Homo sapiens: one gene and its partners. The protein of the gene in region 7 purifies or fractionates together with the protein of the main gene of each other region. This does not show direct contact. Each region holds a gene or a part of one and is shown on either strand. Other genes may lie near its edges.

Region 1 (3,500 bases), on a different chromosome or scaffold from region 7:
GCCTCGGACTCTCAAAGTGCTGGGATTATAGGTGTGAGCCACCGCGCCTGGCCTAAATATGCCATCTTGATAAAGTCTGTGCCCTATGAATATTAGTCCAAACCACTTTAATACAGAGGGATAAGATGGCTGCACATAGACACCTAATAACGTCTGCTCCGCAACCAAGGTAAATTCAGCAAGAAGAGAGTATTTCAGGTGGACGAGTCTGTAGGAAGCATGCATGCCATTTGTTGACTGTGCTGCTGGGACAGGCTCCGTAGGCTTAGTTATGGGCAAAGCATTTTTGGGAATAGAAGGCAGCTGTTTCTTTGGCATAGTTCATCAAAGACTGGTTTTTGCATCCCCTGCCAATGTTTTCAGCTTCAGATCGTTTCCATGTAGAGCTTGTAGACATGCTCCAGAAAGAGTACATAATGTGTACTCCAAACAAAGAAATTCAGTAGTATGTCATCAGACTCTTCCGTCCTCAGCATTCAATTTACCAGCCTTCCGGGCATTGTGCCTCACCTCTGTGCCTTCAATGTAGAGTTCCCAGCTGCCTATCACCTTTGTGGCCCAGCGGCATCTCTGGCCACAGTGCCAGTCCTGCCCCTGCTTGCTCCCTGCCCTGTCCTGGCTTACTTCTTTTCTTTTCTGAGACAGGATCTCAACTGTGTCAACCAGGCTGGAGTGCAGTGGTGTGATCACGGCTCACTGCAGCCTTGACCTCCCGGCTCAAGCAATCCTCCCACTCAGGCTTCCAAGTAGCTGGGACTACAGGCACTTGCCACCATGCCCAGCTAATTTTTTGGTATTTTTTATAGAAATGGGGTTTCGCCATGTTGCCTAGGCTGGTCTCAAACTCCTGAGCTCAAGTGCTGGGATGATAGGTGTGAGCCACCACACTTGGCCTGGCTTATTTTACTTAGCATGTTTTCAGGGTTCATTCGTGTTTTAGCATGTATCAGAACTTCATTCCTTTTTATAGATTAGAAATATTCCATTGTGTGTGTGTGTGTGTGTGTATATATATATATATATTTTTTTTTTTTTTTTTTGAGGCAGGGTTTCACTCCTGTTGCCCAGGCTGGAGTGCAGTGGCGGGCTCTCGGCTCACTACAACCTCCGCCTCCTAGGCTCAAGCAATCCTCCCGCATCAGCCTCCCAGGTAACTGGGACTACAGACATGCACCACCACACCTGGCTAATTTTTGTATTTTTAGTAGAGATGGGATTTCACCATGTTGCCCAGGCTGGTCTCAAGCTCCTGGCCTCAAGTGGTTCACTTGCTTTGGCCTCCCAAACTGCTGGGATTACAGGTGTGAGCCACCGTGCCTGGCAGTATTTACCACATTTTGTTTATCCCTTCATCTGCTGATGGACTTTTGGGTTGTTTCCGCCTTTTGACTATTTTAAATAAAGCTGCTGTAAACATTGGTGTACAAATACTTAACTTAAATCCCTGCTTTCAGTTCCTTGGATTACATACTTAGGAGTGGAATTGCTGAGTCATATGTTAATTCTATGTTTAACTTTTTGAGGAACCTCTTGTTGCATTTTGAGTTGATTTTGTATAAGATATGAGGAGTGCTATAATAATTTCCAAACATCTTTTCATTCAGGGTGAAGGCAAATGTTTGTCCCAGGAGAAACCCAGGGCCTCTGGTCTCTTGAAGTCACCTGCCAGTCTGAAAGCCCATACCTGCAAACAGGACTTGAGCAATACCACAGAACTAGCCACAATCAGTAGCGTAAATATTGACATCTTACCTGCAAAAGGGAGGGATTCAGTGAGTGATGGCTTTGTTCAGGAGAATCAGCCAAGATATTTGGATGCCTCTAATGAGTTAGGAGGTATATGCAGTATTTCTCAAGTGGAAGAGGAGATGCTGCAGGACAACACTAAATCCAGTGCCCAGCCTGAAAACCTGATTCCCATGTGGTCCTCTGACATTGTCACTGGGGAAAAGAATGAACCAGTGAAGCCTCTGCAGCCCCTAATCAAAGAACAAAAGCCAAAGGACCAGGTGAGTGATATGCACACATGAGATACTGGTTTTGGAGAGAAGACTGAAAGTGCAGTTACAAATATGTGGGTTCTGTTGTCATTTTAGGAAAATCAGTAATTCTATGTATCAGTTTAAACATAGAAGAATATTTGCATCAAACCAAAAAGAAACCCAGTACCCTATAACAGTCACTCACCATTCCCTCTTGCCCACAACTCGTGGCAACATTTGTCTCTATGGATTTGCCTATTCTGAGGATTTCATATAAATGGAATCATACAATTTATGGCTTTGTGTGTTTGGCTTCTTTTTTTCTCTTTTTTTTTTTGAGACAGAGTTTCACTCTTGTTTCCCAGGCTGGATTGCAATGGCGCGATCTCGGCTCACTGCAACCTCTGCCTCCTGGGTTCAAGCAGTTCTTATGCCTCAGCCTCCTGAGTAGCTGGGATTACAGGCATGCGCCACCACGCCCAGCTAATTTTTTTTTTTTTTTTGAGACAGAGTCCCACTCTGTCGCCCAGGCTGGAGTGCAGTGGCGTGATCTCGGCTCACTGCAACCTCCGCCTCCCGGGTTCACACCATTTTCCTGCGTCAGCCTCCCGAGTAGCTGGGACTACAAGCACCCACCACCACACCTGGCTAATTTTTTTGTATTTTTAGTAGAGACGAGGTTTCACCGTGTTAGTCAGGATGGTCTCGATCTCCTGACCTCGTGATCTGCCCATCTTGGCCTCCCAAAGTGCTGGGATTACAGGCATGAGCCACCGCACTCGGCCGATGCCCGGCTACTTTTGTGTTTTTAGTACAGACGGGGTTTCTTCATGTTGGTCAGGCTGGTCTCGAACTCCCGACCTCAGGTGATCAGCCTGCTTTGGCCTCCCAAAGTGCTGAGATTACAGACATAAGCCACTGGGCCTGGCCTGCCTTCTTTTACTTAACCTGATGTTTTCAAGGTTTATCTATGATGTAGGATGTACCAACATTTTATTCCTTTTTTAAAAAAATTTCATTTTTTAATTTTTTGAGACAGGGTCTCTGCTGCTCAGGCTAGCGTGCAGTGGTGCAAACACAGCTCACTGCAGCCTTGACTTCCTGGGCTTAAGTGATCCTCCTGCCTCAGCCTCCTGAGTAGCTGGGACCACAGACATGCCCTGCTAATTTTTTTATTTCTATTTCTTGTAGAGAGATGGGGCCTTGCCATGGCCATGTTGCCCAGGCTGGTCTCAAACTCCTGGGCTCGACAGTCCTCCCAACTTGGCCTCCCAGCGTACTGGGATTATAGGCATGAGTCACTGGACCCTGCCTCATTCCTTTTTATTGCCAAATAATATACTGTATTTGTATTTGTGTGCCTGTGTGTGTGTGCATGTGTGTGTATACACACACATATATGTATTTTTTGTTTGTTTGAGTCTCACTCTGTCACCCAGGCTAGAGTACAGTGGCACGATCTCAGCTCACTATAACCTCTGCCTCCTGGGTTCAATGATTCTCGTGCCTCCGTCTCCC
Region 2 (3,500 bases), on a different chromosome or scaffold from region 7:
CAAAGGATTCTATTTTTTTTTTTATTAGATGGAGTTTTGCTCTGTCGCCAGGCTGGAGTGCAGTGGCGCGATCTCGGCTCACTGCAACCTCCGCCTCCTGGGTTCAAGCAATTTTCCTGCCTCAGCCTCCCGAGTAGCTGGGACTACAGGTGTGCGCCACCATACCCAGCTAATTTTTGTAGTTTTAGTAGAGACGGGGTTTTACCATGTTGGCAGCCAGGATGGTCTCCATCCCTTGACCTTGTGATTCACCTGCCTCGGGCTCCCAAAATGCTGGGATTACAGGCATGAGCCACCACGCCTGGCCCGAAGGATTCTATGTTTTCTGGGTTTTTTTTTTTTTTTTGGATGGAGTTTCACTCTTGTTGCCCAGGCTGGAGTGCAATGGTGTGATCTTGGCTCACTGCAACCTCCGCCTCCCGGATTCAAGTGATTCTCCTACCTCAGCCTCCCGAGTAGCTGGGATTACAGGCATGCGCCACCATGCCTGGCTAATTTTGTATTTTTAGTAGAGACGGGGTTTCACCATGTTGGTCAGCTGGTCTTGAACTCCCTAACTGAAGTGATCCGCCTGCCTCGGCCTCCCAAAGTGCTGGGATTACAGGCATGAGCCACCGTGCCTGGTGCTGTTTTCTACTTGAAGGCATATTACTTTTGTATTTGGAAAAAATAATAGAAGTAATTATACAAATTTATTAAGCCTACAGAAGTTCTATTTGACCTCTAACATTTGTTGTTACACTGTCCACACTTTCCAACTCTTTATGCAACTCTATTTTCAGGCTGATAAAATAGTTGTGTAACTGTAGCAACAGTTTCTTCCATAAACATAGACTTTCATGAAAATCAAATTAAAAAGGAAAAACCTATTATTAAATTCCTTTAAGGTCCACAACTAATTATCTTTAGCTTCTGGGGCTAGTGTGTGGATCAGTTAGTCTGTATATTCAGCTGCCTTTTTCAGCAAGGTGGAAAACCTCTTTCAAAGTTCAAAGACTAAAAACAGCCACAGAACCACAGAAGGTATTTGCTACCTGTGCTCAGAAGTGCACTTCCTAGCAGGTGTATTCTTCTAAAACAATAGCTGGAGAATAACAGTCTGCTTAGCACTCTTTCATTCTTTTATATTACATATTAAATCACAAGTATACCTAGGAAATAGCAGTGCCTGCCTTTGTGCACCCATGGATTTTGCCAAGGTTTGTTTCATTGGTCAGAGTCTTTACTTATTTATTATTTTTCTTAACTTTTATTTTTGGTTTGGAGGTACACGTGAAGGTTTGTTACATAGGTAAACACGTGTCATGGCAGAGTCCCAATTTAAATTTACCTCTCTGGATTCTGGATTCTTGACATTTTAAGATACTCCAGAGCAAGCTGCTGTATTTTTGGATTCCACTAAAAGTGCTGGTATCCAAGCCACCTTGATGTGTAAACAGTGTTGTCTCTCACACGAGAGGATAGAGCAGGACTGACTTAGCAAATAGAAACCACCTAAACCAAGTTATCTCTGTGGAAAATTATTACTGAGCTATAGCAAACTATCAAATTCATTATTACAATTCTATTATTATGTGTGGTGAGGGCTTTTGTGTTAGGTAGTTATTTGATTGGTACCTGACATTGATTCTGCCAGTTTGCATTTAAATAGAATGCCGAACATGAGAACTTAGGTGGAATAAAAGAGCACACGGGAAGAGTTAAGTGAAACACAGTAACAACAACAAAAATCCAGAGTTTATAGCTCCTCTCTTCTCGTTATTCTTATCCTTTTCCATTCTGGTTCTGGCCTGGCACTACTACTTATCTTCTCAACCTTGTATCATAATTTGGTCTCCTCAAATTAACACAGTGAGGGTTTATACTTTCAAAGGGGAAAAGAGGTGATAGATGGTGGAAGAGGCTAAAAAATTAAGGGAGTTGTAATCTCCCTATTTTCACCACTTTCCCTTGATCACCTAATTGAAGCTTTTGTGGTATAAGAGAAAGTTGAAGTCCGGTTAACGATACAAATTCATTTGAAGTGATGTGTAAGATTACTATTTATGAAGAGCCCTGAGCTTTAGATGTGACCTTAGGTCTGAAGTAGGAGTAGGGGATAGCACATGACAACTATCAGAATGACTTCTAGAGTTAGTTTAAAATTAATGTTTGAATACTACTTTATACTTAATGTATTTTGCATACAGTATATAATTTAATCCTCATAACAAACCCATTTTTTTTAAAAGCCAATTCTTCCACAAGAAAAATGGGAATGCCTGAATCTTACTATTATAAGTCTGTATCCTGGAATACTAAGGCCCATAGGCAACACAAACTGAAGTTCTTTTTCTTTTTTTTTTTCCCAAAGGACTGCTGCCATGGAAATTACCTTTTTCTGTCACTAGATTTATTTGTAGGATACACACAGCTCCTATAAAGTATCTACTCTAGGAGGACATATGGTATTATTGTATAATGCTTTGAAACAGAAAATTAAAAGGTGGTTCCCTTTCTTAGTGAGTAAACACAAAACCGCAATCTTCAGGAAGTAGAAATCAGATACCTCCGCTCTCCATGCTCAAAAGAGTAAAATTGTTAAAGATCAGCCTGCTCAGTCATGGTCTGACCAGAGTATCTATTTTATTGATGTTGAGAAGCACCTAATCTGTAATATATGAAGTCCTTCCTTAGACTATAAACTCTGAAGGCAAGAATCATGTCTCTTATTAAAAATGGTCTCTAGTGCTTAGCCCAATGCTTGGCACATTGTAGGTGCTTAGTTTAAATATTTATTGAATGAATGATAGTGCACAACATTGTAAAATTAGTCAATCTGGAGAGAAACAATCCTTTTTAGTATGATTTTTTCTTTTATTGATACCTAATATTTTACATATTTATGGGGTACATGTGAGTACTTTATACATGCATACAATGTGTAATGATCAAGTGAGGGTGTTTGGGGTTTCCATCACCTTGATAATTTATATGTTGGTAACATTGGAACTCCTCTTTTCTAGCTACTTTGAAATATGTGATGTATTATTGCTAATTATAGTCACCCTGGTCTGCTATGGAACATTAGAACTTTTTTCTTCTATCTAACTATAAGTTTGTACTCATTTGCCAAACTCTATTCATTTCTCCTTCTCATCCTGAGAAACAATCCTTACAATTAGTTTTATTGATGGTGAGGGAAGATATATAATCATTTTATTTTTAATTTTTAAAGTTCTGTTATTTTGGTGTGTACCTGAATGGAAAATACAAGGAAGGGAAAGGTTCTGGCTTCCAGATTAAGCTGATCAAAAGGGGCTACAGAGATTGTTGAGGCGCCTAAGTGAAAGGTCCTTAATGGAGCAAGAGAGACTTTATACTGCAACTGTTTGCTGATATTCAGAGGCAGAACTACCTATTTTTATCCTTTGGCCACATTCCAATGAACTGTCCCAGCAGATGGAACAGAGACTAAGAATTGGAAGGGTTATCCTTTGAGTGGAGAGTTGAAATTGTCA
Region 3 (3,500 bases), on a different chromosome or scaffold from region 7:
GTGAGCCAGAATTCAAGCTCCGTAGTGCCATAAAATGATGCCTGTTTCAAGGTTTAAATTTAACTGCTGTAAAAGTATTAAGAGTGTATGTGCTACATACAAAAAAATGTGAGAATGTTTCAAGCATTTACTAAGTGTCTACCATGTGTTGAGTACGTTATGCACATTAAGTCACTTAGTGTTCTAATTAACCCTGTGATAAATATGCAAGTGTTTTTTACACACGTATGATGTGTTCTACAGCATTATTTATATCAGTGACAGATTTTAACACCAGGAAAATAAATTGTAATAAACCCCTTCTCTAGAAATTAAGAGTGTCATGTGTGTTTGTATTGTGTGTGTATAATTGTTTGTTGAGACATGGTCTCACTCTGTTGCTCAGGATGGAGTGCAGTGGCGCGATCATGGCTCACTGCAACCTCTACCTCCAAAGCTCAAGCAATCCTCCCACCTTTCTACCTCCCTCGTAGCTGGGACTGCAGGCATGTGATTCCCAAGCCTGTCTAAATTTTGTTGCTGTAGTAGTACTTTTCGTAGAGATGAGGTTTCATCATGTTGCCTAGGTTATTTGTATTACTTCTACTGTATATAAAGATAAGTAAATTGAAGCTCAGAGTTGTTAAGTGATTGATACAAGGTTACACACTAAGTGGCAAAGCCAGGATTCAAACCCAAATCTGTCTGACTGCTGTTAAGGACCAGGAGCATGAGTTTGGAATGTGGGCGGTGGTCGTCTTAACCTCCAGACTTACCTCCTGCACAGAAACCCCAGCTGCGAGGTCCACCAGGAGCCGGTGACATACACAGCTATTGACCCTGGCCTGCAAGATGCTCTTCACCAGTGTGTCAACAGCAGGTGCAGTCAGAGGCTGGAAAGTGGGTAAGCAGAATCTAGTAAAGAATTGAGGTTTTCCAGCTAATATTTATTATTCCTACTCTTCGTGTTTTAAAAAGGTATGTCAGTTTTTCAGATCTGAAACTGATTTCCATAAGCCTTTACCCACCAGATTAAATGTTGTCTCGTTCCCACTTATTACCCGTATTTAGCGTGTGTACCATATGTTAGTAGCCTCATCTGTGAATGGGAGTTTTTCTTGAAATAAAAGACTTGTGAGGGGCCATGGCATGAAGCAGCAGGGCAAGGGAGGAGGAACCCCTGAGGTCCAGAAGCAGAACCCAGTGGTCAAGGCTCTAGGTGTGATATTTTGAAGCTCATTTATTTTCCTTTCTTAGGAAACACATCTGCTTCATGATAGTTTTGAGAACTAAAAACTACATGTTCCCCGCTCTCTCCCCACTCCTCAGGTGGGATTAGGAGTTTGGGACTAGACATTATGGAAATAGTGGCTGTGGTAGACTAAGTAAAGGGGAGTTGGTTTTTAGCTTATTGTAGCTGTAGCTTGCCATTTTATTAAACAGTGTTTAGAGGGATAGCTTACTCTGCTTTGCGTGTGTATTTTAGCAAAGGAATTGTGGCATCAAACTGATTAATTTGGGATGTTATACAGTAGCCCCAAGTCAATTAAGTTTGGGAAATGCTGACACTGCATATATTCTCTTGAGACAGTCACAATGCATGTAATACACTAAAGGCTCTGAGAAATTGGCAGTGAGGAAACCTGTGGTGACTGGCCAAGTATTTCCAAACTTATTGGACTTTTTTTTTTATTTTTTTAAATGACCCCACACTTGGGGGATGTTAAGCCAGAGTCTAACAAACATTGGGGTCATTTCTGTTTGGTCTTGTAAGATGATTTTGAATAGCCCCATGATGTGTGGATGTCATTATTTAATTCACAGAGAGCAGTTTTATTTCTCTCCTTTCCAAGTTGTTAAGAGGCATAAAACAGTTATTTCCCTGGCAGTCTATTGCTATTCTCATTTTATAAGGAAAGGAAACTAAAGCTCAAGAAATTCACAGCACTAGTAAGTAATGGAGATCCTGAGAACTGTCTGATGCCCACACTTAAGTGCTGTCCCCTGCCCCACACTGCTTTATAGAAGACTAAGTATTGTTTTTCTGGCAGGGACTGTTTTGGGGTGCTGGATTGTGAATGGTGCATGGTGGACAGTGATGGAAAGACTCACCTGGACAAACCCTACTGTGCCCCCCAGAAAGAATGCTTCGGGGGGATTGTGGGAGCCAAAAGTCCCTACGTTGATGACATGGGAGCAATAGGTATGTTTGTTAGATGCCCCAACAATTTGATTCTTGAATATACAATTTCCTGCCTATATGCTAGGACATCTTAAAATAATCCTCTTCCCAACTTCCCTGATTCCTTTGCTGGTAGTCTTTAGTTACAAAACCAAGGCAGATAATTACCTTCAGAACTGGCTAAATATTCTATGCAGAGAGAGTGAGTGGCCATCTGTGCTGCCAAATTTTACAAGCCTGGAATTCATTCCCATAAAGCTTGTTCTGATAAATATAAGGACTGGTTTCTGCATGGCCAAACTCTGGAGTCTGTTTGGATATGCACGCCAGCTGTCAGAAGCACAGGGCCGTGTACGGAGTGACCACTGTATGTCTAGTGCCTGCTAAAACCTTCACTCACAACTTTTGCAAGGTAGAAGTCTTATAGCTACAAATCAGTATTTGGGGCCTTGGAGTCAACAGAAGCCAGAGCTACCCAGTGCATCTGGGACAGCTTAGGATGAAGCACAAGGACACCACAGGGTGGACAGCCCCTGGGATCAGTCTCCAAGACCTCAAAAATACTGCCAAGATTAGATTGCTTACCTGAGATTTTTTTTTTCAGTCTTTCCAGAATTAGCACCAAGGCCTAATTCTTAGATGGCAGTAGAGTCAAATATTTAAATCCTTAGTTAATACCTTGATTTTTAACATCACTTACATCAGCCTGTCTAGAAGAAAAGCTCATATGTGGGGAAGGATTTTGAGCTTGTATGTTACTGCTGAACTAGGTGAGGGTACATATGTGAAAGTGACTTGGCTCTGAGAAATCACTTTCTATGCTCACCTGCAGTTTCCTATCTGGAAAGCACAAATGGCCTTTTAAAGGAAACCCATAAGCTTCGAAACTTGATCCGGTTAGCGCATATTTATTGGACCTGGTGCCTTTTATTTCAGTGGTTACTCTGTACTAGGTGACTTTTCCTCTCTTCCAAGAGTAACTCATACCCCAGGGAGCTAGGACTCTGTTGGTGTTGGATGCTGCCTGTGTAAGCAATTCTTCTGGTCTGCTCACTCTTCCCAGCAGTCCTTGCCATTTGTGCTCCTGCTCTGCCTAGCAACCAACACTGGAGAACCAGGAATTAAATGTAGCCTCCGCTCCCACGTTCCCATGCGTCATGTTTGAGGAACTCAAAGCCTAACTAAGCATCTGTTTATCTTCCGCCAACCCCCTTCCCACTGTATTCCCTCCCATCTCACCATCCTTACTTTCTTCCCCACTTGGGAAATCTTAACAAGAAACATCTTCTTGCTCTTTCACTGAAGGTGATGAGGTGATCACATTAAACATGATTAAAAG
Region 4 (3,500 bases), on a different chromosome or scaffold from region 7:
GAGGAAAGGCGGAGGGGAAATGCAGCCGGCCAGGAGTCCGAGACATGGAGGGAGGAGAACATAGAGGGTCAGTGACCCTCCTAGAATTCTCAATTCCGAGCTTGCATTTTGTTGCCAGAGGTTTTACAGAGAATTTCTGCTCGTTTTCTTTTCACCAAGTATAGTTTGGAGTGGCTGGCTCTATCTGACAAAGACAGGAGGAGAAAAGGCTGCAGGCCTGGGGAAGCACCAGGCTGAGATCTCTGCACCCCTGTCGTTTTTCTTTTCTTTTCTTTTCTTTCTTAATGATCTCAGATGTCATTTAATTTTCACAACAAAGCTACAGGATGGGTACTGCTATTGCCTCCTTTTATGAAAAAAGGAAACAGGCACAGAGAGGCTAATAGTCCAGGGCCACGGAGCTACTAACTTGTACAGGCAAGATTAGAACAGTGAGTCTGATCCTTAACTAACCGTGGGAGGGAGATATTTTTTTCCTACATTCAACCATACAGGGGGAGGAGGAATTGCCTAGAAAGTATGTGATGCTTTCTTTATTTTTATTATTATTTTTTATTTTACTTTTAGTTCCGGGATACATGTGCAGAATGTGCCAGTTTGTTACATAGGTTTATATGTGCCATGGTGGTTTGCTGCACCCATCCACCATCTAGGTTATCACCTAGGTTTTAAGACCCGCATGCATTAGGTGTTTGTCCTAATGCTCTCCCTTCCCTCTTCCCCTACGCACCGACAGGGCCCGGCGTGTGATGTTCCCCTCCCTCTGTCCATGTGTTCTCATTGTTCAGCCCATTTCTGAATTTGAAGGCTTTCAAGCCACTGATGACTGTTGAACTGAAACTTCCTGTGCTCTGGAGCTATTTGGAGAGTTAGGACCCGTTGTTGTGTCCCAGCGTCCAGCAGCCGCCGGGGTTTGCAGGGTCGGGTGATGGCGTTCCTCTGGGGAGCTGGCGCTTTCCCTGGAGTGCAGAGTGTGGCTCTCAAGGGCGGTGCAGGCCTGAAGGCCCTGGGAGAAATGGAAGTGGGAGGACATGAGAGCCGCTGGAGTCGAGGCCTTGTCCTGGTGCTCCTGGCTGCAGAGAAGGAGGGCCGGTCCCTGCTCGCAGGCCTTCCCCCCTACCTCCCTGCAGATGTGCTCAGGATCCCTGGAAGCCCGAGTCACAGGTCATAAATTCTCCCAGCTGTTTGGTGCTGATGACAGCAGCCCTATTGGCTCACCACATGGGCATGGCCAGCCCAGAATTAAGGCCTGACTCAGCCTCATTTCCTGTCACTCCATGGGTGTGTTTGAGAGGAGCTCAAGAGTTAATGAAAAGGGTTTTTAAAAAAATCCATATGCCTTGAAGGAAAGTTGAGAGCAGCACTCCCCCTGGATCAAGAGTCCCATTAATGCTGATGACTTGTGTCTTCATCCCACATACGGTTTTCAGCAGCTTCAAAGGGGACTGAGTTACACTGGAGAGGGTAGGACACTGGCAGGAAAGGGGATGCCCCCGAGAGAGGTCAGACCGGGGGTCTGTGAAGTCTCCCCAGTGAGCTCCAAGGTCACCTTTGCCCGAAGGAGACCTGAGACCTGCCTCCCCTGAATGCGGACGTTGAGGGCATTCCTGGAGGAGCTGGGTGGCCGGTGCTCCTTGGGGCCCGGGCGCTGCCAGCAGAGGTGTTTATCAGACCTTCACTCGAACACATGTGTTTGAAGCAGCCAGCCAGTGTCTGCTGATCACAAAACACTCCAGATGGACGGGGCTCTGAGGCGTGTGTTTTGTTTGCTTTAAAGTTTAAAGGGCTTCTGAAGGTGTGTTTCTGTGTTTCCCTTTAAAGGACTTGCAGCCACTTGCCCGCCAGCCTCCCCAGCTGGCAGGTTGCATAACCTGCTCCCCGACTTCTCTAGGAGCAGACCTGGTCTTCACATGTGTCTCTCTTTACCTGAACCCTCGAAGGCTTGTTTTTTTCCCTTTATGCCGGCTCAGCCGGCTCTCAACCACCATGGCAAACATGATGCTTTACAGAAGGTGGATTCTAATTCTTCTGCAGTTCTGTCCCGGATAACTCCTTCCTTACAGTACGATTCTTTCACCTGCCCGTCAAATGTGCTGCTCCTAATGCCTCCAGGCTTGCTTCTGCCCCAGAATCTGTCTCCCTCCCTGCCTGGGGCAGGGCTACCTGGAGAGGCACAGACACGGCTCTTAGGGGCTCCTGGAAAGCTCTCACCCACCCTCTGAGATTGCAGAAGGGAGCTTTTGATAAAGCATCATAAAATATCACTGTTGCAGGCTAATGAGCCCCGCTCTGATGGCTGTGTTGCAGATTTCTGATTTTGGTCTGGCCAAGTGCAACGGGCTGTCCCACTCGCATGACCTCAGCATGGATGGCCTGTTTGGCACAATCGCCTACCTCCCTCCAGAGCGCATCAGGGAGAAGAGCCGGCTCTTCGACACCAAGCACGATGTATACAGGTGTGTGACATGCCGCCCCCCATCCCCTGTGGGTGCCAGGGGCTCTCAACCTCAATGCTTCATGCCCTGAGCTGCAGCTTTCAGAAAGGCCTCTTGCTGCCAGTCAGAAATGGGGCTCGGGCCAGGCGCGGTGACTCACGCCTGTAATCCCAGCACTGCGGGAGGCCGAGGCAGGAGGATTACTTGAGCCCAGGAGTTTGAGACCAGCCTGGGCAACATGGTGAAACCTCATCTCTACAAAAAATACAAAAATTAGCCCAGCTTGGTGGCGTGCACCTGTAGTCCCAGCTACTCGGGACTGAGGTTGGGGGATTGCTTGAGCCCGGGAGGTGGAGATTGCAGTAAGTCATGATTGCACCACTGCATTCCAGCCTGGGCAACAGAGCGCGACCCTGTCTAAAAAACAAACAAACAGAAAGGGGGCTAAGTCCACATAGAAGGGGTGGGTGCTTGTAGAGTTCAGGGATTTCTTTGCTGTGAGTGTTGCTAGCCAAGGAGGAAGGGTGTTCCCAGGTCCACATTTGGGCCAGGCTGACAGCCCTGCCCTGTCAGAGCCTTGGTGATTTCATGACCCGTGGGCTTTATGGCTTGTCTGTTGGAAGAACCTGCTGCTTTCAGTGGTCTGTACGCATGTGTGTTTGTACTTTCCGAAATTCACTCTGATTTTGTGAGGCGAGCAGCTCATCTTCTTCATGGCACTTAACCTTTGTTGGTCAGAGATCAATCCCCAAGTCACCTAGTCCCTTCCTTTTTCAAATTGTAAAGGTCTTAATCACACAGACTTCTTGGAGAAGAAAAGTGGGTGGGAGCGTGTGAGCAGGCACTAAGCCTCCCATTGTGGCTGTTATCCAGCAGCACTGTGACTCGGACCCCGCATGTGAGCTCTGCCTTTTGGTCACTGCCGCCGCCAGCAGCCCAGGCTGACTGGTTTGACAGTGGCCATTGTGCATGTGCTTAGCTGGGGCTTTAAGCTGAGAGTTGCCTGGAAGTGTCACTTTGGAGACTAGTCACAGCTTGTAGAGTTTGGGGAGATTGAGATCCTCT
Region 5 (3,141 bases), on a different chromosome or scaffold from region 7:
CTTAACATTTAATATGTCTTGGTTAGTTCAACTCCAAAATAGGAGTCATAGAAACTACCCTCCCTATTTTAAGAGGTAGGGAAAGTTATAAGGATGAAATGAGATAATGGATGATGAACATTTTTACATGTAAAGATGTGTTGACAAGCTGTAAATTTTAAACACATCAAGAAGTATTGTGGTTAGTGGTGGTATTGTTTAAGTAATAGTTTCTCAACCTCCAGTGCACTTTAAAATTATTTAGGAAGCTCAAAATTTCCAATCACCAAAGCCAATTAAATCAGAATTTCTGGATGACAAAGCTGTGGCACTGATCTTGAAAAAACAAAAACAATTTTTTAATTATAATTTCAAACATATACTAAAGTAGAGAGGATAGTATAATGAACCCAATTATTAACCCATGGCCAATATTGTTTCATCTCTACTCTCACCCTGGATTATTTTTGATAACTCACAATGATATTTCTTGGCTTAGGTATGGGTTTGGTTTGGTTTGAGGGGTGATGTTATTAGATGCCTCTGTGCTTGTTTTGTTTGTTTTAATGTACACTCAGATTTAAAAAGCACTGATTTTAATCATAGTTACGGTCAAATGCTATAACCCTTCACTTCTTCTTCTTTCTTTCTTTTATTATTATATTTTTTCCAATTTAGGAAAGTGACAGACCATGTGAAATTTCAGAAATTGATGACAATCCCAAGATATCTGAGGTAAGAACTCTTGGTTATACTCTCTATATACCATTCACACAGTAAACAAGCTAAGTGTTTGAAAGCCTTTCACCAAAAGAAGCACAGTATGAGCACATGTAGAAAAGAGATGACCAAGAGGAAGCTCAAGCACAAAGGAGGTTCTCAGTGCATTTTTATTGGCTGAACAGAAATTCAAGCTCCCTTTAATATTAGACAATCAATTTAATATAATTTATTTTACTGACAAACTAAAATGGAAAACTCATGTGACCATCTCAATAGGGGAAGAAAGTTCAAAAAAACTTAACAGTGATATGAACTCTCAGCAAATTAAAAATAGAATGGGAACTTCCTTGACTTGAAAGATGTCTTTTTCAAAAAATTACAGCTAACATCATACCTAACAGTAAAATGTTGAAAGCATTCTCTTTAGATCAGAAATAAAACAAGGATCTTCACTAACACCACTTCTATTCAATATTATACTTTAGATCCTAGTCAATGAAGTAGGATTTTTAAAAATTAGAAAGTATAGGTCCGGTGCAGTGGCTCACGCCTGTAATCCCAGCATTTTGGGAGGCTGAGGCGGGTGAATCATCTGAGGTCAGGAGTTTGAGACCAGCCTGGCCAACATGGTGAAACCCTGTGTCTACTAAAAATACAAAAAATTAGCTGGGTGTGGTGGCGGTCGTCTGTAATCCCAGCTACTCGGGAGGCTGAGGGAAGAGAATCGCTTGAACCTGGTAGGTGGAGGTTGCAGTGAGCTGAGATCGCACCACTGCACTCCAGCCGGGTGACAAGAGCAAGACTCCATCTCAAAAAAAAAAATTAGAAAGTGTAACACTGAAAAGGAAGAAACAAAATTGTCATTATTTGCAGATGGTATGATTGTCGACATAGAAAAGCTAAATCTGGCTGGGTGCGGTGGCTCACGCCTGTAATCTCAGCACTTTGGGAGGCCAAGGCAGGTGGATCACCTGAGGTCAGGAGTTCTAGACCAGCCTGGCCAACATGGTGAACCCCATCTCTACTAAAAACACAAAAGTTAGCCAGGTGTGGTGGCAGGTGCCTGTAATCCCAGCTACTTCGTGGGGGGCTGAAGCAGGAGAATCACTTGAACCTGGGAGGCAGAGGTTGCAGTGAGCTGAGATCACACCATCACACTCCAGCCTGGGGGACAAGAGTGAGACTTCATCTTAAAAAAAGAAAAAAAAAAGAAAGAAAGGAAGAAAGAAAGAAAGAAAAGAAAAGCTAAATCTACAGAAAAATTACTTGAATTAACAAGAAATTTTAACAAGTTTACTGGATACAAAAATCAATATATAAAAGTAATTTATACTTTCAACATCAACAACAATTAGAAAAAGTGATTTTAAAAATTACCATTTGTGATGGTAATTGGTATTAAAATATGTAGAATGCTATGGAATAAATCTAACAAAAATATGTAATACCTTTATGGAAAATAATAAAACTTTGGTTAAAAAACCCATTAAATAATACCTAAATAATGGGGGTTGCATACTATGCTCCTGGATAGAAAGTGTTAATAACATAACGATGTCAAACAATGTTGATCTATATAACAGATGTAATTTCAATATAAATCCCAATCAATTTTTTTCATGGAACTTAATGAGGTTCTTCTAAAATCTATATGAAATAAAGTAGAAAAAGAGTTAAAAAGACACAACAAACAGGTAGAACAAACAGAAAACAAATAGCAAGATGGTAGATTTAAACCCAACCATATCAATGATCACATTAAATGTAAATGGTCTAGATACCCGAATTAACAGGAAGAGATTTCACATTGGCTATAAAAACAAGGTCCAATCATATGATGCCTACAAAACTCACTTTAAATATAAATACACAAATAGATTAACAGTTAAAAGACAAAAAATGAGAAACTTTGTTAACAATAAACAAAAGATAGTTGAGTGGCCTGAAAGCTCTCCCAAAGCAGTAAGATCAGGTAATTGTGGGTCTCTCCTCATTTGTTTTCTGTCTCTCCAGGACCATTGTCCCTCCTTGCCTGTTGTCTAGTGTCTTGAAAACTATTGCTTCAAATGTTGTGTCTGATTTTGGTTATTTCAGGTGGGAGGGTCAATGTGGTTGCTGTTAGTCCATCTTGTATGAAAGAATTCTCTGCTGTAGTTTTTAAAAAACCTATTTGTTTCCTTAAGAATCCTAGGAGATCACCCACACATGAGAAGAATACGATGGGAGCACAAGAGGCCCACATATATGTGAAGACTGTAGCAGGAAGCGAGGAACCTGTGCATGACCGTTACCGTCCTACTATAGAAATGGAAAGAAGGAGGGGATTGTGGTGGCTTGTGCCCAGACTGAGCCTGGAATGATGCAGCTCAGTCAAGGAGCAGCAGACCTGGCACTGGAACAGGGTTGAAAACCCAGGGTTTTGTACTTGGAGAGGAAAGA
Region 6 (3,500 bases), on a different chromosome or scaffold from region 7:
CTTTGACCTTGAAATCCCAAGAGTCACTCGAACAATGTGTGTGTACACTTGTGTGCCCATGTGTGCGTGCACACGCATGCTGGAAGTAGAGGCCAGGCCTCTAGAAAAGCAACCTGTGGCAGGGTTGACAGACATGTTCTCTGTGCCTAGTGAGTGAGTGAGCCCTGAGGCCCCTCATCTACCAGTGCAGAGTTTCCTTAAAGCCAAGACTGACTGTGCAGTATTACTTACATAGCACATTAGTGGCCTTGGAAATTTCTAAACTTTTAACATTTTTAACAGCTTTTCATGTGATTCATGTATAACAAAGAGGATCAGGAAAGGAAAATAATGTATTTTATTGTGCTCTTATTACTTTTTTAAGTGATTGTAATATGTGAGGCTCTATTTGGAGAATGTCCCTTATCCCCTGGCCAGCAATATAGGACTCACAGGAAAGAAGGCTGGTTAGCCCACAAAGAGTCTTGCCTCCTCTAGCCAGAGTGCAGGGCTCTGCTCCTAGGAATGGCCATGGAGTGGGCATGCTGCTGCAGGCCAGCAGTCTGCTCTTGGTGTCCTGTGGCATGGCCGCGCCTTGCCTTGAAGGTTGGTGTTTGGTTCATCTTAGCATAGAACATGTGCACATAACTCCTTGCCTGATTATGCACTGAAGGGCAGCACACAGACCACTGACCATGTCAGCCAGCACATTCCCTTAACCTCCCCCACCTCCCATCTTGCAATGTCTTGCATATTGAGATATACCTTCTCAATGTCATGTTCGTGGTGCCTTGCCCATGTAAATTTCAATGTTGACTATTTAATGAGGTTACATATTTAATGCTGAATGTTTCCTGGTCCCTCTATTTGTTATGTCTCTACTTATCTTTTTTTTTCTTTCTCTTTTTCTGTTATGATTTGGATCCAGTCTTCACTTTAACTCTATGGTATAATAAGCATGGACACCTCCACTACCATTATCTTACAGCACTGGTAAACCAAGCACCTCTTCATATCAGATGTTTTTAGTACTGTTTTTATATTCAGATTTGTTAAGGGCAAAAGATGAATGCAAACTAGCCAGAGAAAAGCCTCAGGCTTCCCAGAGACAGGTGGCTAGATTAATTTTTCTCTGGGTGATGGCCAAAGAATGTGAGATAGAGAGGGAAGGGGGTGTTACAGGTTAGAGCAGAATAGAGAAAGAAACTATATTTCTAGGCAAAAAGTACTACATGAGTTGGTCTTCAGAATATTTTTCCAAAAAAATGAAATTCAGTCAGTTTAACATTATCACAAATATTTTTCATTTTAATTGTGGTAGGACCTTTGAATTTGTTCATCAACTGGAAAGAAATCCTACCCTCTGTAGACACATACACACACATTTATATATCTATGTGTTTGAATTGTGACTAGTATAGCACTTTACATTTTCTCAAGTAACAGGAAGTTATTGCCTTCAATATTGATTGGAAATTGTTTTCTATTGAAGTCTATACTGTAGAGTTTTCCATTTATATTGAGAGTTTGAACAATTAAGCTCCTATTGGAACTTTTCCTTAAGCCACATGAGCATGAACAATCTCTGTGACACTTGGGTGCTAGAGAAACACAACAGTGGCTAAAGTAGCCAAGAGCAAGACTGAATGTATAGCAGAGTGCCTTGTTAGAGTGGTAACCTAGTCTTGGAAGCAATTCAGTGGATGTTTCATAAAGAGGACTAGAACTTCAAGAAGCCTCCTGTGCTGGCTGAGGTGAGCCCTTTTGGTATATGTACACTACTGGGTTGCCTAGAAGCCAATTCATGAAGAATAACAGCAGGATGAGAAAAAGAGTCACTGTAACCTGTGGAACAACAACGTAAGAATCACCAACCCCTAGGCTGAGCTAGAACTGGAAGCCAGGAATATGGCAATGAGTTTCAAGATTTGCCCTCAGAAGATGAACTGGGTGAGGTATGGGTTGAGGTGAGGGCACAAGCACTCATCCTACCTACCCTGCTGCTGTTGAGGAGCTAGAAGTAAAACATATTGGTTAGGATTTTAACAGTTGGAGTAGCCTCCCATTATCAGATTAAGTGGGGGTCACTTTTGCTTCCAAACTCAGAATAAGTTTGTAAACATGGGAAAGTCTAAGCCAAGAGATCTAAAGCTCTAGAAATATTAATGACATTTCTGGGAGTAAAACTACTAAAAATTATATCTTAAAAGTTTCTAGTAGTATGAAGTTCCCAGGCCAGGCGCAGTGGCTCACGCCTGTAATCCCAACACTTTAGGAGGGCGAGGTGGGCAGATCACCTGAGGTCAGGAGTTTGAGACCAGCCTGGCCAACATGGTGAAACTCCATCTCTACTAAAAATACAAAAATTAGCCGGGCATGATGGCAGGCACCTGTAATCTAAGCTACTCGGGAGGCTGAGGCAAGAGAATCTCTTGAACCCAGGAGGCAAAGGTTGCAGTGAGCCAAGATCACGCCATCGCACTCCAGCCTGGGAGATTGAGCAACTTCGTCTCAAAAAAAAGTTTCCAGGAAAGATCTTTGGGTCCTACTAAGCGTCTCAATTTTGAGTTATGAATACTTTGGTTCAGGGAAGTAACCTGACATTTGGTTTTGCTGGAATTAGGGTTTTCGCTAGATTTGACTGCAATTAGGATTTCTTCTAGATTTTACCAGCAGTGATCTGAAAAAGTACAGGCTAGTCACAGAAATAGAGATGGATTTAGGATACTACACTATATTTCAAATGATTCTAGATGTGTAAATATAGTATGAACATTCTTGGAGAGGGGTGAGACAAACTGGACTTGCTGGGCCAACCCTGGCATGTTTTTCATTCTCCTCACTAGTTGACAAGGATTGAAAATTCCGCTCCAGCCTAATGAGTGAACAGGATGGCTGCCCACAAAACCAAGTTATTAGCTTTATGTCATCGAAGCTCATATTCTCAAAGGCCCAAAGTGCTGTGCCGAGACAAATCCAAGTGCTGCTCTTGCTGAAGTGCGCACTGAAGTCCAGCTGTCCGTGCTTACAGCAGTGCCAAAAGTGGGGATTCCATGGACCAAAAACGGTGCCATAAGGGAAGCCAGAAGAGTTGCAGTGCAAGATCCTGGGAGAGATTATACCAAAGAAATCAAGCCTTTTTATCCTGATGCTTCTAAGATGATGAGGGTGAGCTGTGACAGATGCTGTGGGAGGGGAGTTCACATACATTCCATGTCAAGGCATTTAGCTGATAAATCCATCCTCAGAAAAGCACCTTTTTAAAAAGAAGTCCATTTTGTATATTAGAAGATGATGATGATGATGAAGATGAAGAAAGCCCTGGCAGATACAAAGTTCCTCAGTATTTAAGGAGAAGGATCTCTTCCATGTCCCCTTGACATGACTGTGGCTATTGCCCAAACCTCAGCTTGAGAACATCATATAATACTGAGAGCGGAAGATTTTTTTAAAGAGATATGGTAGTTTAAATAGGTTTGTTTAAAGAACTCTTGGGAAATTTCTTAACAAATTGTAATTGT
Region 7 (3,500 bases):
TGACTTAATGACCAAATGGTATATAATGTATTATTGGAGAATGTTCTTTTGAATAGAAGACATTGATTTTGTACTTTTTGCAGAGTTTGACTTGGGAAGGTAGGAAGTCACATGAGGGAAGTGCAGGGCTGATGTCTAGAGAAAATAAATGTTAAGATGCACTTATTTTTTAAATGTTTGTATGGCTTTCCTATGGGCATAGAAGAGGACATTTATCTCTTCTGCTATAATGGTATATGATTACATATAATTTTAATACAGCTGTAAATATTGGCAGGCTCTCATTTGGGGTGATTTTCATTTATTTTTATATTTGATACTTTCTGACTGCCTGGAAGTAGTAAAACGTTAGTCTACCACTGTTAGCTTTGAGTGAAGAATTCTAATATTTTGGAGAGGTAAATGCATTTAAAACATTGCACATTACCTTGTGAAACTAACATTGTATTAGTTACATTTAGGCATGGAAATGCAAAAACAAATCTGTAATTCTTCTGTCATATCATTTTTATGCCTCACAAACTCATAGCCAAATAACCCCAATTTCATATGTTAAAAAAGCTTTCATAAGGTCAATAATATAATATCTTGAAAAATATTTCAGTTTAAAAAGAATTTTCAGTACTATAGGATCATTCAGAGGCAGATGCCTTGCCAAAAATATATCATTGTTAAGTAGATTTACTGCTTAATGGGAAGAGATTTGTTGCTGCATGTTAGATGGCATTTTTCATGTAACATCTTTTATGTATCCCCACAACAGGAGGTGTTAATTACAATTCATTCAACAAATATTTCTTGAGCCTGTGTGCCAGGCACCATTCCAAGGTCTGTTAGCAGCCTCATTCTCTAGAGGCAGAGTATATAACAATAGGACTTGTTGTAGCCTCAGGCCAAGATGAATTATGAAAAAAATATTAAACTTGGTCTTTTGGCATGGAATGATTTTTGATACAATACTTGTCAAGTTCTGTGACTTCCATAATTGCAGAGTGGGTCTGCAGTTGAATTGAACAAGATTTTGCCTGAAGTAGAAGTATCATTGCCATGATTTTATTTCAGTTTTGTTTTCCTCAAAATAGAATTTGCTGAACTTTTAGAAGGAAAAAATGTTTCTTCTATAGACCTAATCAAGCTTGTTAAATAAAATTATTACCTGCTTGCTCTGAGGTTCCAAACTATTCAGATACCCCTAATGATCATCTCCCCATGTATTATGAAACTGGTTTGGCTCTGATATATGATTATTGACATTTGTGTAGCATTGTACACAGACTGATTTTATGTGGCATAAAAGATTTCACAAAGACTTTAAAATTATGTCATTTTACTTGATGGGTGTGTGTTCAATTAAAAAAAAAAGTCCCTGTGATTGTATATAAAATATAGTATCCTGTGATGATGAGGGTGTTAGATTTAGTTTCTTCCTTTATAAATGAAAATAGCCATCTCCCATAATTATTATGAAAGCTAAATGAGAAAAATGTATATAATTTATAAAGTTAGATTCAAGGATTTAATTCATTTGTAAAGTTGGCTTCAAATAGAGAGTATTACTATAATCTAGTTGCCTCTAAACCTCAGTAGCCAGCTTTTTATTGTGACAGGGAACCTCTATTGAGGTTTGAGGTAATGAGGGTAAAAGTGTAATTTCCCAGAGAAGAAGCTTGTGATGTTGATGACGTTAGGGATGTAAACAGGATTATGAGGGGGAAAAAAAAAACAGACAACAAAGCTTGCCTCCAGAGAGATGAAAACTACCACTTGGGCTCTAAGTCAGTGTCAAAATATTTTTTGGAGTTAGCCTGACTCTGGAGAGGTCAGTAAAATAAACAGTTGCACTGAGAGGCCAGATTAGCAAGTATGGGTTTCTAAATGATAAACTGCTTTTAGGCTAGAATCAGGGCTGAATCAGCCTTCCCACCACTTATTTGTTTCTAGGGTGTTTGAAAGGCCTAGTACTGAGTTCACGTGGTGCATGATTGTGGGCTGGGGTGTAGGGAAGTATTTTAGATTCTAATATGGGGGTTTGGTGTGAAGGGAAGTATATTAGATTCTAAGAAACTATATTTCAGTGGTTATCCTTTTTTAAAAATAAGTAATAATGAATATTTAGAACCAGAACAGTTTTGTAAGAAGGAAAATACCTAAAATCTGAACTGTAATCTTCTATGTTTTTATGACGTTATGTGAATCAAAGGGGTTTTCCTTTTAAGTAAAAGAAAAGGTCAGGAGTATGAAATCCTAAGCCCTCTTCCTCCCCCTATAAAACCCCACAGGTTCACTTGTAGAAAAAAATTGCAAATGGGGAAGAAAAATGCTTTTAGCTAGAAAAGTTAGTTTTGGATTTGTGTATTCAGTAACAGAACATGTTGAAGTTTTTATTAGATGCAAGAAAATGTCTCTAAAGTAAAATCCTTTGTGTTGACATTAGATTTTTTATTGTATTATAGTAACTTTATTCAAACTTTTTTTTGTTTAGCATTTAGCAGAAGAGAAACCTGATGGCCTTATCAATGAAGCTACTAGGTATTCATATTTAAAGTATATATTGATTGCTGGCTAATTGTAAAGAGAAAAATCACTAAGATGAAAACCAAAAACAAACTAAGAAATTTTAAAACATAGTCAACGAAAATTTATTTTCTTTTTTTCCCTTAGTTGAATTATTGCTATCTATTTATAATGATCTGATAACTAAACTTTTACTTAAAGTCATTTTTGTCGTAGCATAAAGTGAATGCTGAACACAGGATTCTGTAATTTTGAGGAACTCGGGAAATATTAACATTTAAAAATATTTTCTTGTTATACAATTTCTTTGGGATTGAAGATTTTATATATATATATATATGTATAATAATAATAATTATTATTATTATTTTTTGAGACAGAATCTCACTCTGTCACCCAGGCTGAAGTGCAGGCTCACTGCAACCTCCGCCTCCCAGGTTCAAGCGATTCTCCTGCCTCAGCCTCCCAAGTAGCTGGGATTACAGGCACCCGCCACCATGCCCAGCTAATTTTTGCATTTTTTTTTAAATTTTTTTATTTTTATTTTTATTTTTTTTAGTAGAGATGGGGTTTCACCATGTTGGCCAGGCTGGTCTCGAGCTCCTGACCTCAGGTGATCCACCCGCCTCGGCCTCCCAAAGTGCTGGGATTACAGGCATGAATCCACTGTGCCTGGCTGAACTTAAGTATTTTTGTAACTTTTTTCCTTATGAAAATATGGTTATTATAGAAAATATAAATAAGCCAAATAGAAAATAGCCAGATTGGATTTGTGATGTACATACTGTTGAAACCTGCTCTTTCAGTGAACTAAAGTGAATTCAGTTTTGAGAATTTAGTTGTATTCTTTGAGATAAAGCATAAGACCCTGAATAATTGAGGAAAATTGAAAGAATTTCCAGTTTTACTATCCTGTTAATAGAAAATAGAGCTTCTGATTATTATCATCTACTTTGTTATCTAGCATTCAGTCAACTGGATTCTTT

What was found.
Region 1: the proteins of ZNG1B (region 7) and NEK4 purify together in Homo sapiens (affinity purification with mass spectrometry; 2 studies listed by BioGRID and IntAct, with this or other methods). This does not show direct contact.
Region 2: the proteins of ZNG1B (region 7) and MORC4 purify together in Homo sapiens (affinity purification with mass spectrometry, with the first as the bait; one large-scale study listed by BioGRID). This does not show direct contact.
Region 3: the proteins of ZNG1B (region 7) and CACHD1 purify together in Homo sapiens (affinity purification with mass spectrometry; one large-scale study listed by BioGRID and IntAct). This does not show direct contact.
Region 4: the proteins of ZNG1B (region 7) and RIPK4 purify together in Homo sapiens (affinity purification with mass spectrometry, with the first as the bait; one large-scale study listed by BioGRID). This does not show direct contact.
Region 5: the proteins of ZNG1B (region 7) and OPALIN purify together in Homo sapiens (co-immunoprecipitation; one large-scale study listed by IntAct). This does not show direct contact.
Region 6: the proteins of ZNG1B (region 7) and PEAK1 purify together in Homo sapiens (affinity purification with mass spectrometry; one large-scale study listed by BioGRID and IntAct). This does not show direct contact.

The regions. Positions count from the first base shown.
Region 1 is NC_000003.12:52,750,441-52,753,940, reverse strand, and holds part of NEK4 (serine/threonine-protein kinase Nek4), read left to right. Parts: intron 1-42; exon of another isoform or gene 43-415; intron 416-1,604; coding exon 1,605-2,009; intron 2,010-3,500. UniProt on the Homo sapiens protein: Protein kinase that seems to act exclusively upon threonine residues. Required for normal entry into proliferative arrest after a limited number of cell divisions, also called replicative senescence.
Region 2 is NC_000023.11:106,986,713-106,990,212, reverse strand, and holds part of MORC4 (MORC family CW-type zinc finger protein 4), read left to right. Parts: intron 1-3,500. UniProt on the Homo sapiens protein: Histone methylation reader which binds to non-methylated (H3K4me0), monomethylated (H3K4me1), dimethylated (H3K4me2) and trimethylated (H3K4me3) 'Lys-4' on histone H3. The order of binding preference is H3K4me3 > H3K4me2 > H3K4me1 > H3K4me0.
Region 3 is NC_000001.11:64,676,129-64,679,628, forward strand, and holds part of CACHD1 (VWFA and cache domain-containing protein 1 isoform 1 precursor), read left to right. Parts: intron 1-766; coding exon 767-883; intron 884-2,030; coding exon 2,031-2,182; intron 2,183-3,466; coding exon 3,467-3,500. UniProt on the Homo sapiens protein: May regulate voltage-dependent calcium channels.
Region 4 is NC_000021.9:41,750,053-41,753,552, reverse strand, and holds part of RIPK4 (receptor-interacting serine/threonine-protein kinase 4), read left to right. Parts: intron 1-2,307; coding exon 2,308-2,456; intron 2,457-3,500.
Region 5 is NC_000010.11:96,345,862-96,349,002, reverse strand, and holds part of OPALIN (opalin), read left to right. Parts: intron 1-657; coding exon 658-714; intron 715-2,885; coding exon 2,886-3,062; 3' UTR 3,063-3,141. UniProt on the Homo sapiens protein: Central nervous system-specific myelin protein that increase myelin genes expression during oligodendrocyte differentiation. Promotes oligodendrocyte terminal differentiation.
Region 6 is NC_000015.10:77,109,105-77,112,604, reverse strand, and holds part of PEAK1 (inactive tyrosine-protein kinase PEAK1), read left to right. Parts: 3' UTR 1-3,500. UniProt on the Homo sapiens protein: Probable catalytically inactive kinase. Scaffolding protein that regulates the cytoskeleton to control cell spreading and migration by modulating focal adhesion dynamics. Acts as a scaffold for mediating EGFR signaling.
Region 7 is NC_000002.12:113,458,191-113,461,690, forward strand, and holds part of ZNG1B (zinc-regulated GTPase metalloprotein activator 1B), read left to right. Parts: intron 1-2,482; coding exon 2,483-2,529; intron 2,530-3,500. UniProt on the Homo sapiens protein: Zinc chaperone that directly transfers zinc cofactor to target metalloproteins, thereby activating them.